2 separate regions of the Homo sapiens genome follow, and region 1 is linked to region 2. Evidence: fine-mapped expression QTL. A gene starts in region 2. The other region holds a variant in brackets. All regions are shown on one strand. Distances are from middle to middle. Region 1 overlaps ZNF655 (zinc finger protein 655). Region 2 holds the start of TMEM225B (transmembrane protein 225B).

Region 1 (5,393 bases), 24 kb before region 2:
TTAAAAGAAAAAGTGGCAGATGTAGGACCTGGGGATACATTGCCACATCCCATTTCCTTCTCTATGAGCAGGATTTCCAATTTCCAAGCCTGATGGGATCTCCCAGCTGGAACAGGATCTACAGGTCTTTGATCTGGAAACTAAGACTAGAGAAGTCTTAAGAGATGACTGCTCAGGTGAGTAAGGCAGAATCAGATAGAATTAGTAGGGAAGTAAAGTTCAATTGTTGAGCCAAGTTGTAGCTGCTTTGGCACTCAGAATGAAGAGCTCTGTGTGTGTCCTAGCATGGAGAGTTCCTTCCTTTTCCCTTCAGTTAGGTTGACCCTTTCCATTTGTTTAGTATCCGTGCACATGTCGTACTAGACCCCAATCAAGTTGCTTATCTAAAATTCTTTCAGCTGTTTCCCTATTATTTCCTTACTCTGCTGAACATGTCCGCTGTTTTACCTCACTGCTCCTGTTTATGCCCTTAACTTCTGCTGTTGAGATTTTGTGCCTGTTTTTCAGAGTAAATAAACTTTTCTTGTCCTTGTAGATACTACATTGTTTAGTTTTCTCATCTGAGTTTTCTTTTCCTAAGCACAGGGTACAGATTACATTTGCATTTTCTATTTATATATTGTATCAGATGGAGAGACCAGAGAAGAGAACAAGCTGTTGATTCCTAAGCAGAAAATTTCGGAAGAAGTGCATTCATACAAAGTGAGAGTAGGAAGACTCAAACACGATATTACCCAAGTTCCTGAGACTAGAGAAGTGTATAAGTCTGAGGACAGATTAGAAAGACTTCAGGAAATTCTAAGGAAATTTCTGTACCTGGAGAGAGAGTTTAGGCAAATAACAATCAGCAAGGAAACCTTCACCAGTGAGAAGAACAATGAATGTCATGAACCCGAAAAAAGCTTCAGTCTGGACTCTACTATTGATGCAGATCAGAGAGTTCTTAGAATACAGAATACCGATGACAATGATAAGTATGACATGAGCTTCAACCAGAATTCAGCCTCTGGTAAACATGAACACTTAAATCTAACAGAGGATTTTCAGAGTAGTGAATGTAAGGAAAGCTTAATGGATCTCTCCCACCTTAATAAATGGGAGAGCATCCCTAACACTGAGAAATCCTATAAATGTGATGTATGTGGGAAAATTTTCCATCAGAGCTCAGCCCTTACTAGACATCAGAGAATCCATACTAGAGAGAAGCCCTACAAATGTAAAGAATGTGAAAAGTCTTTCAGTCAGAGCTCAAGTCTTAGTCGACATAAAAGAATACACACTAGAGAAAAACCTTACAAATGTGAAGCATCTGATAAATCCTGTGAAGCGTCTGATAAATCCTGTAGTCCAAGCTCAGGCATAATTCAGCATAAGAAAATTCACACCAGAGCCAAATCTTACAAATGTAGCAGTTGTGAAAGAGTCTTCAGTCGTAGTGTCCACCTTACTCAACATCAGAAAATTCACAAAGAGATGCCCTGTAAGTGTACTGTATGTGGCAGTGACTTCTGCCATACTTCATACCTACTTGAACATCAGAGGGTCCATCATGAAGAGAAAGCCTATGAGTATGATGAATATGGGTTGGCCTATATTAAACAACAAGGAATTCATTTCAGAGAAAAGCCCTATACGTGTAGTGAATGTGGAAAAGACTTCAGATTGAATTCACATCTTATTCAGCATCAAAGAATTCACACAGGAGAGAAAGCACATGAATGTAATGAATGTGGAAAAGCTTTCAGTCAAACCTCATGCCTTATTCAGCATCACAAAATGCATAGGAAAGAGAAATCGTATGAATGTAATGAGTATGAGGGCAGTTTCAGTCATAGCTCAGATCTTATCCTGCAACAAGAAGTCCTCACCAGACAGAAAGCCTTTGATTGTGATGTATGGGAAAAGAACTCCAGTCAGAGAGCACATCTAGTTCAACATCAGAGCATTCATACCAAAGAGAACTCATGAATGTAATGAAGATGGGAAGATATTTATCAAATTCAGGCTTCATTCAGCATCTGAGAGTTCACACCAGGGAGAAATCATGTATGTACTGCATGTGGTAAAGCCTTCAGTCATAGCTCAGCCATTGCTCAGCATCAGATAATTCACACCAGAGAGAAACCCTCTGAATGTGACGAATGAAGAAAAGGTATTAGTGTTAAACTCTTAATCGACTCCTGCAAATCTATACCAGTGAGAAATCTTA[C/T]AAATGTATTGAATGTGGCAAATTTTTCATGCTATTAGTATTTTCATACCTTAGTCACATTTGGAGAATTCACATGGGAATAAAATTCCATTGCTGCAATGAATGTGAAAAAGCCATCAGTCAAAGAAACTACCTTGTTTAGTATCAAATTCACGCCATGCAAAAAGATTATAAATGTAATAAGCATGTATGTGTGTGAGGAGATTCAGTCATAACCCAACGCTCATTCAACATCAAAGAATTTATACCTAAGAGAACTTATTTGGGTGTAGTAAATGGCAGATCTTTCAATAGGAGTTTAACTAGTCTTTGTCATATCAGAATATCCATAGTAGACAAGAATTTGATGTAACGCAAATGGAAAAACTCGACACCACATTTCAGGCTTTACCCAACATCGAAATAATGGAGAGAAAATTGTTGATTATTTGTTTATGAAATTGTTAATACATAGTCCCAATCTTTTTCATTGCACAAAAATCTAGGGTTGACTTGGTAAATGCAGTGACATTTTCTCATGGAGTTCCTTTATTTAATATGTATTCTAAGTAGGTACGTTTATTTTTACTTTTTTATTATAATTTTGATATTAAAAAGAACAGAGATGGGGTCTTGCTTTGTTGCCCAGGCTGGTCTTGAACTCCTGGCCTCAAGCGATCCTCCCACCTGTCCTCCCAAAGTGCTGGGGTTACAGGCGTGTGTCACTGTGCTGGGCCTATTTTATTTATAGAACTCATTTAAGCTGTTTTTATTTTAATATGCCCTATAAACATTTTTATATTTTTTGAAATTGGTTCTTAGTGTTCACAACTTCCATAAGATACTGCTAATGCACCAGTATTAAAACACATCGACGTAAGTAGCTCATTTAGCTTTTTCTGCTGTTCTTGGCCCAAGTTCTTTCCAAAACCAACTCTTAGGCCTGCTCTTTACTAGGGATCTTATGTCGTATTGCTTTACAGCCACAACACTTGGATTCCTGTTGATTAACTTCTCCATTCTCTTAAGCACCTTTAGAAGATTTAGAAGTTTCCTAGTTTTAAGTGTTTCACCAGCAAGTATTCCATACCTACTTGATGTTGCTGGTCTGGTGTCTTATTTCCTAAAGTGAAGCATCTTTTTTTAAAAAAGAATTTGATTGACAATATATCCAGTCCAATATAAGTATGAAGGATTCTCTCTCCTGAGATTGTAGCAGGCAGCCAAACATTTTCAAATGATGCCCAAGGTTTTAGCTGTCTTGTGTGCATCCACAGTCTGCGAAGAAGACATGATAAGGACATCAGGGAGCCAACAAGACTCCTAATAGCCTCACTACATTCATCCAGTGCCTATTCTGCATGCCTAAGCTTAGAGTTCTTTTATATACCTCTACGGCCAGCAAAATGCTCAGGTCTGCTCTTGGTAGGGTAAACATAAAGAAGATACACAGGCCGGGCATGGTGGCTCACACCTGTAATCCCAGCACTTTGGGAGGCTGAGGCGGATGGATCACGAGGTCAGGCAGTCGAGACCATCCTGGCCAACATGGTGAAACCCCGTCTCTACTAAAAATACAAAAGTTAGCCGGGTGTGGTGGCACGCGCCTGTAATCCCAGCTACTCAGGAGGCTGAGGCAGGAGAACTGCTTGAACCTGGGAGGCGGAGGTTGCAGTGAGCCGAGATTGCACCACTGCACTCCAGCCTGGGCGACAGAGCAGGACTCTCTCTCAAAAAAACACAAAAAAACAAAAACAAAAAACCATACACACACACACACACACACAAATCAGCATCATAAGGGAATGTAGCCTTCCAACAGAGATGATGCTGTTCGTATGTTAATCTCAGAGACAGTATTTCAAGAGAGTGGCAGGTCTGTTCCTGGTAAAATTTTAACCATTAGGATTGCAGATAAATGTTTGAATTCTGCTCCTCTCTCATCAATCCAGGACAGTATTTGAAGTGTGAGGGCTTTGTGTATAGTTGTTTATCCATTACCACATTTTTGTATTTTAATAGTCTACAGGCTATATAAAAGAACATGGCTTTTTGACTGATAAAAGTGATTACAGATGTTGGCTCAAGTTCAGGGCCACCATCATATACCTAACAAGAGTTCATGATTCTTTAGGTAATGTCAAAACATTTTGTATTTTTCCATCTTAAGCTTTATAACATTTTGTGAGTAAGACAAATGTTATTTAAAATTCTTGTTGTCAGTCCAGCAATTGAGGCTTTCATAGTTCAGTGTTATAATATTCAGTAGGGACCCTCAACAAATATATAAAAATATGTTGCTCACTCTATAATCCTCCTATGGCTAACCTCTAGGATAGTTCTGCCACTATATTTTACTTCTTTGCCATCAGCAAGAGTAGGATTTCATCAAGGCAAGGTAGGAATCTAAATGAAATTGATATATAAATGAATTGATCTAAATGTAAAAGCAAATGAAAAATGCATGTGTTTTTTCCTGTCAAACATGTATACCCTTATGTATAGAGACCAGTAGTCACGTATGGTGACTGAAACAGGATTATGTAATCCCTAAAAAGCAGAATATGTAAAAATCACATGTATGCGTTTGGTTTAGGAATGTGCTTTTGTACTTCCACTTGAATAAAGGTGTGTTTGGTATTCTGAGAATTTGTTTCAAACAAAATCTGAAGGTCTCAGACAGAAGCGTTTGGGAATGTTGGAATCACATCTCTGGCTGCAACTCCTTTCCTCCCTGGAACTTGCTTCACAGCAAGAATGGATCACTTTCCTTTGCATTGATAACAAAGCTTGCTTTTCCACAGACCTCTGGAACAAAAGCTGAATGTTTGGGACTTAAAGGGGATTTGATTGGGAAGTTGTTGGTATATAAAATAAGACTAAATAGTTCGAGGTTTCAGTAGAACTAGGAATAACTTTTTGTTTGTTTGTTTGTTTTTTGAGACAGTCTCGTTCTGTCACCCAGGCTGGAGTGCAGTAGCGTGATCTCGGCTCACTGCAACCTCCGCCTCCTGGGTTCAAACGATTGTCTTGTGTCAGCCTCCCAAGTAGCTGGGATTACAGGCACCTGCCACCTTGCCTGGCTGATTTTTGTATTTTTAGTAGAGACCGGGTTTCACTGTGTTGGCCAGGCTGGTCTCAAACTCCTGACCTCAGGTAATCTGCCTGCCTCAGCCTCCCAAAGTGCTGGGATTACAGGCGTGAG
Region 2 (5,393 bases):
TGTGGATATTAGGAATAATATCACAGTGTGTTAACACAGTGTGTCAACACTGGATATTAGTGATATCATGAAAAATATCACAGTGTGTTAACACTGGACATTAGTAGTAATATCATGAATATTCTGAGTAATATAACAGTGTGTTAACACTGGATATTAGTATTAATATCTAATGTGTGTTAGTAATAATATCACAGATACTATGAATAGTATCACAGTGTGTTAACATAGTGTGTTAACACTGGATATCAGCATTAATATCATGGATATTATGAATAATATGGTATGATAACACAGTGTGCTAACAAACACTGGATATTATGAATATCATAGATAATATTAATATCACAGTGTGCTAACACTGGACACTATGAAGATCATAGATATTAATATCACATTTTGCTAACACAGTGTGCTAACACTGGATATTATGAATATCATATAAATTATTAATATCACAATGTGCTAACACTGTGTTAACACTGGATATTATTATCACGGTGTGCTAACACTGGATATTATTAATATCATTGATATTAACACAACACAGGGTGCAAACACTGGATATTATTATTAGCAAGTCACAGGGTGCTAATACTAGATTTTATTAATATCATATTATTATTAACACATCACAGGGTGCTAACACTTGATATTATTAATATCATAGACATTATTAACACAACACAGGGTGCTAACACTGGATATTTTTAGTATCATAGATATTATTAACATTGCAGTGTGCCAACATTGGAAATTATTAATGTCACAAATATTGGTAATAGCACAGTGTGCTAACACTGGATATTATTAATATCACAGATATTAGTAATATCACAGTGTGTTAATACAGTGTGCTAACACTGGATATCACTAATATGATAGATAATATAGATATTAGTAATATCACAGTGTGTTAACAGTGTGCTAACGCTGGATATTATTAATGTCACAAATATTAGTAATATCACAGTGTGCTAACACTGAATACTATGAATATCATAGATGTTAGTAATACCACAGTGTGCTAACACTGAATATCATTAACATTACAGATATTAGTAATATCACAGTGTGCTACTATTAATATAATAATGTTAATACTATTGACACTATATTAGTAATATAATAGTGTTAACACTGTTATTAATATGAGAGTTAATACTACTAACACTATATTTTTAATATGATAGTGTTAACACTACATTACTAATATGTGTTAACACTATATTATTAATATAATAATGTTAATACTATTAACACTATATTATTAATATAATGGTGTTAGCACTATATTATTAATATAATAGTGTTAACACTATATTATTATTATTATTTGAGACAGAGTCTTGCTCTGTCGCCCAGGCTGGAGTGCAGTGGTGCCATCTCTGCTCACTGCAAGCTCCGCCTCCCAGGTTCACACCATTCTCCTGCCTCAGTCTCCCGAGTAACTGGGACTACAGGCGCCCCCACCACGCCCGGCTAATTTTTTGTATTTTTTAGTAGAGACGGGGTTTCACCGTGTTAGACAGGATGGTCTCGATCTTCTGACCTCGTGATCCGCCTGCCTTGGCCTCCCAAAGGACTGGGATTACAGGCGTGAGCCACCGCGCCCGGCCTAACACTATATTATGAAACACTATATTATTATTATAGTGTAGATACTATTACATTATTAATAGTGTTAACACTATTATCATTAATATAATAGTGTTAATACTATTAACACTTTATTATTATTAATTATAATATTAATATACGAGTGTTATTAATTATTAATATAATTATAATACTGTTAACACTATATTATTAACAATTATTATTAATATAATAGTGTTATTAATATAATATGTGTTAACACTATAATAGTGTTAACACTATATTATATTGTTAATATTATAGTGTTAACACTATTATATGATTAATAGTGTTAATCATGTATTATTAATATAGCAGTGTTAATAGTAACCCTATATTATTAATACAATAGTGTTAATGCTATTAACGCTATATTATTAATATAAGTGTTAACACTCAACACTATATTACTAATATAATAGTGTTAATAGTATATCATTAATATAATAGTGTTAATACTATTAACACCATATTATTAATACTATTATTATTCCCATTTTACAGATTAGAAGCCCAGGACCCAGGAAGGAGACACAGGAAATTTATTCAAAGTCCCCACGCTGGTAATGGCAGAGCTAGGATTTGAATTCAGATCCCTCCCGCTCTCTGTTCCTCCGCCCCCACACACCCGTGAGCGAAGCCGGTACTGTGGGCAGACGCCAGGGCCTGGTTTCCCCACCCTCCACCCGCCAGGTTTGCGGTGGCCGGGGCGGCAGGTAGGGAGGTGAGCCCGCGTCTCCTCCGCAGAGCTGGAGCTGGAGCTCCGCTCAGAGGCCCAGGCTCAGTGGGCTCCTCCCCCGGGTCGGGGCAACCCCCCGCCGGGGCCTCTGGGGCCAACGGAAGCTCCAGGAGCGCGGTGGAGCCTGGAGTGGAGGGCGAGGGTCCCACCGTGACCCGCCTGGAGGGCAGCCCAGCTCTGGGACGCGAAACCGCCTACGACGGTGCCGCAGGTGGAGGGAAGGGTAGAGGGGAGACCAGTATGGGGGAGAGCAAGGTGGCCCCACAGGTTGGGAGAGGATGTGGGGAAGTCCCCCTACCCACCCAAGGCCGAACATCGCCTAACTGGCTGTGGGACGCCCGGGGCAGGGGCTGGGGGCGGATGGCCTGGTTAGGGCCCAGCTTGGGGTCTTGAAAATATCCCTATGGCTTTGGGGCCACAGAAGGGCGGAGTCCTGGCATTCAGGGGAAAGGGCCGAGGACGGTTGTCAACGGGAAGGAACCTCTGACCCTACCCTGGGTCAATGTGCAGTCCAAGTTGCCACAAATGACCGGAGGAAACAGTGGGAAGGGAAGGTCTCTTTCCCATTCCAAACCAGGATGCCCTTCAGGTCGCCCACTTCCTTCATCCCCAGAGCAGCTGCCGACTTTCCTGTTAAGTGCCAGGGCCTGGGAGGTGCGGGGCTGCAGCTCAGGCGCTGAAGGGGGCCTAGGGTCCAGGAACCTCCTGCCAAGCCAGTGGTCCTCAGACGCTGGTCCAGGCACCACCACGGGGTACACAGCTTTTCTTACCTCCTGGTGTTATGGGTCCTTTCTGTTTTTTGAGACGGAGTCTCGCTGTGGCTGTGTCGCCCAGGCTGGAGTGCAGTGGCACGATCTCGCCTCACTGCAAGCTCCGCCTCCCGGGTTCACGCCATTCTCCTGCCTCAGCCTCCTGAGTAGCTGGGACTACAGGCGCCCCCACCACGCCTGGCTAATTTTTTTTTTTTTTTTTTTTTTTGTATTTTTAGTAGAGACGGGGTTTCACCGTGTTAGCTAGGATGGTCTCGATCTCCTGATCTCGTGATCCACCTGCCTCGGCCTCCCAAAGTGCTGGGATTACAGGCGTGAGCCACCGCACCCGGCCCATGGGTCCTTTAAAAAATAATAATTTGGCCAGACGTGGGGCCTCATGCCTGTAATTTCAGCACTTTGGGAGGTAAAGGTGGGAGGATCACTTGAGCCCAGGGGTTGCCTGGGCAACATAGCAAGACCCCATCTCAAAAAAAAAATTAGCCAGGTGTAATGGCATACACCTGTAGTCCCAGCTACTCGGGAGGCTGAGGCAGGAGGATCGCTTGTGCCCAGGAGGCATGAATGCACCACTGCACTCCAGCCTGGGTGACACAAGACCCTGTCTCAAAAAAGAACAACAACAAAAATTTGAATAAAAACCAAACCAGTGACAGTAGATAAGTTGCTTTGTTTTTAATGCTCTTGGCAAAATAAAAAGTTGGCAGTCGTATATTCCCCCATTCTCTCTCTCTTTCTCACACATGCACATGCCTATAAGAAAGCATTCTCTGGATCCACAGAATTCCAGATTTGGGAATCACTGAATTGAACTGCCGGCCATTGGTGGCTGGTGAGACTGTCCTGGCAGTGATGCAGTATTCTGGTCCCTGTGCCAGCACTGATGGGCTGTGGAATCCTCCACCAGTCATTCCCTCTCTCCAGCTCTCCATCTCTGCTTCTGTACAAAAGGATCTACCAATCCCCTCTTATATTCAAATATCTATGACCTTTCAGTCTGGCCTATATCCGTGCGGATCTGAAGTTGTGTATCCGAAGATGTAACCTTGTCCAGTGCTGGCACTAAGGGCTGCTTCAGGGAGGGACCTGGACTGGTGCCCAGGGAAAGGAGGACAAGGTCCTCATCACTGGAGAGTGGAGGGGGCAGTGGGAATGGGACAGATAAGGGGTAGTGCCCTGGGGTATACCTGGCCCCAAAGTAACCCCGGGCTGTGAAGACAAAAGCACTGCATCACATGATGTGTTTCTGTGTCTCTCTCCCTAGCAGTTCCAAGAGCCTCTGAGTTCCTGCCTTTTTTCATCTCTGAATCCCCACCATTGGCCTACATTGGGAGTGGGGCGACCTGTAAGTGCACAGTGAATTTTTGCTGAGGGAGTGGCTGGGAGGGCTGCGTGGAGTGGACAGCACCAAGCTGCACTTTTCAGGGGAGTGGGGTTTGGAAAATCTGGGGAGCAGAACAGGCACCCCCGCCCCCAGGAAGGAACCCAGGTGTATTAGTCTGTTCTCATGCTGCTAATAAAGACATACCCAAGACTGGGTAACTTATAAAGGAAATAGGTTTAATTGACTCGCACCACATGGCTGCAGAGGCCTCACAATCATGGCTGAAGGCGAATGAAGAGCAGAGTCACATCTTTCATGGTGGCTGGCAGGAGAGAGCTTGAGCAGGGGAACTTCCACTTATAAAACCATCAGATCTTGTGAGACTTATTCACTACCACGAGAACCGTATGGGGGAAACTGCCCCCGTGATTCAATTATCTCCACCTGGCCCTGCTCTTGACACATGGGGATTATTACAATGCAAGGTGAGATTTGGGTGGGGACACAGCCAAACCAAATCACCAGGTACAGAGGCCAGAGGAGCCTGGGGATGACGGTGATGTTCCAGGTGTGGAGGGAGACGTGGCAGGCGTGGGGACAGGAAGGTTGGAAGGTTGGGGAACTTTATGAAGGGAAAACTGAGAAGATGAGGAAGGCTGATGAGATGGAAGTGGGGTTGGGGAGAGGGAAGAACCAGCATGAGCTCAAGGCTAGGGTTTGGGTGAAGGAGAGAAAAAAAGGTAGAAAATAAAGGAGACAGAGATCACTTCTAGTCACATACAGGTGGAGATGGGGTAGACAGGAAGAGGTGCCCCCTATCAAATGAGAATGCCCAGTGTACTCCCATCTATACAGAGGACAGGATCAAGATGCAGCCATGACTCCTTCCCATTGAGTTCTAATACTAGAAGGATGCCTCAAT

Evidence for each region. PIP is the estimated chance that this variant, and not a neighbour inherited with it, causes the effect.
Region 1: its variant is the best candidate, but not a certain one, in a credible set for the expression of TMEM225B in T cells (TOPMed, PIP 0.75).

Annotation. Positions count from the first base shown.
Region 1 is chr7:99,571,617-99,577,009 of GRCh38, forward strand. It overlaps ZNF655 (zinc finger protein 655), which reads left to right. Exons shown (of 3, transcript NM_138494.3): 3 at 629-4,837. The coding sequence ends at 1,968. Among named protein-coding and RNA genes, the nearest start is that of ZNF655, 16 kb to the left of the region's middle. The variant C/T (reference allele first, on the strand shown) is at 2,210.
Region 2 is chr7:99,595,794-99,601,186 of GRCh38, forward strand. TMEM225B (transmembrane protein 225B) reads left to right here and starts at 2,474. Exons shown (of 6, transcript NM_001195541.3): 1 at 2,474-2,588; 2 at 4,412-4,492.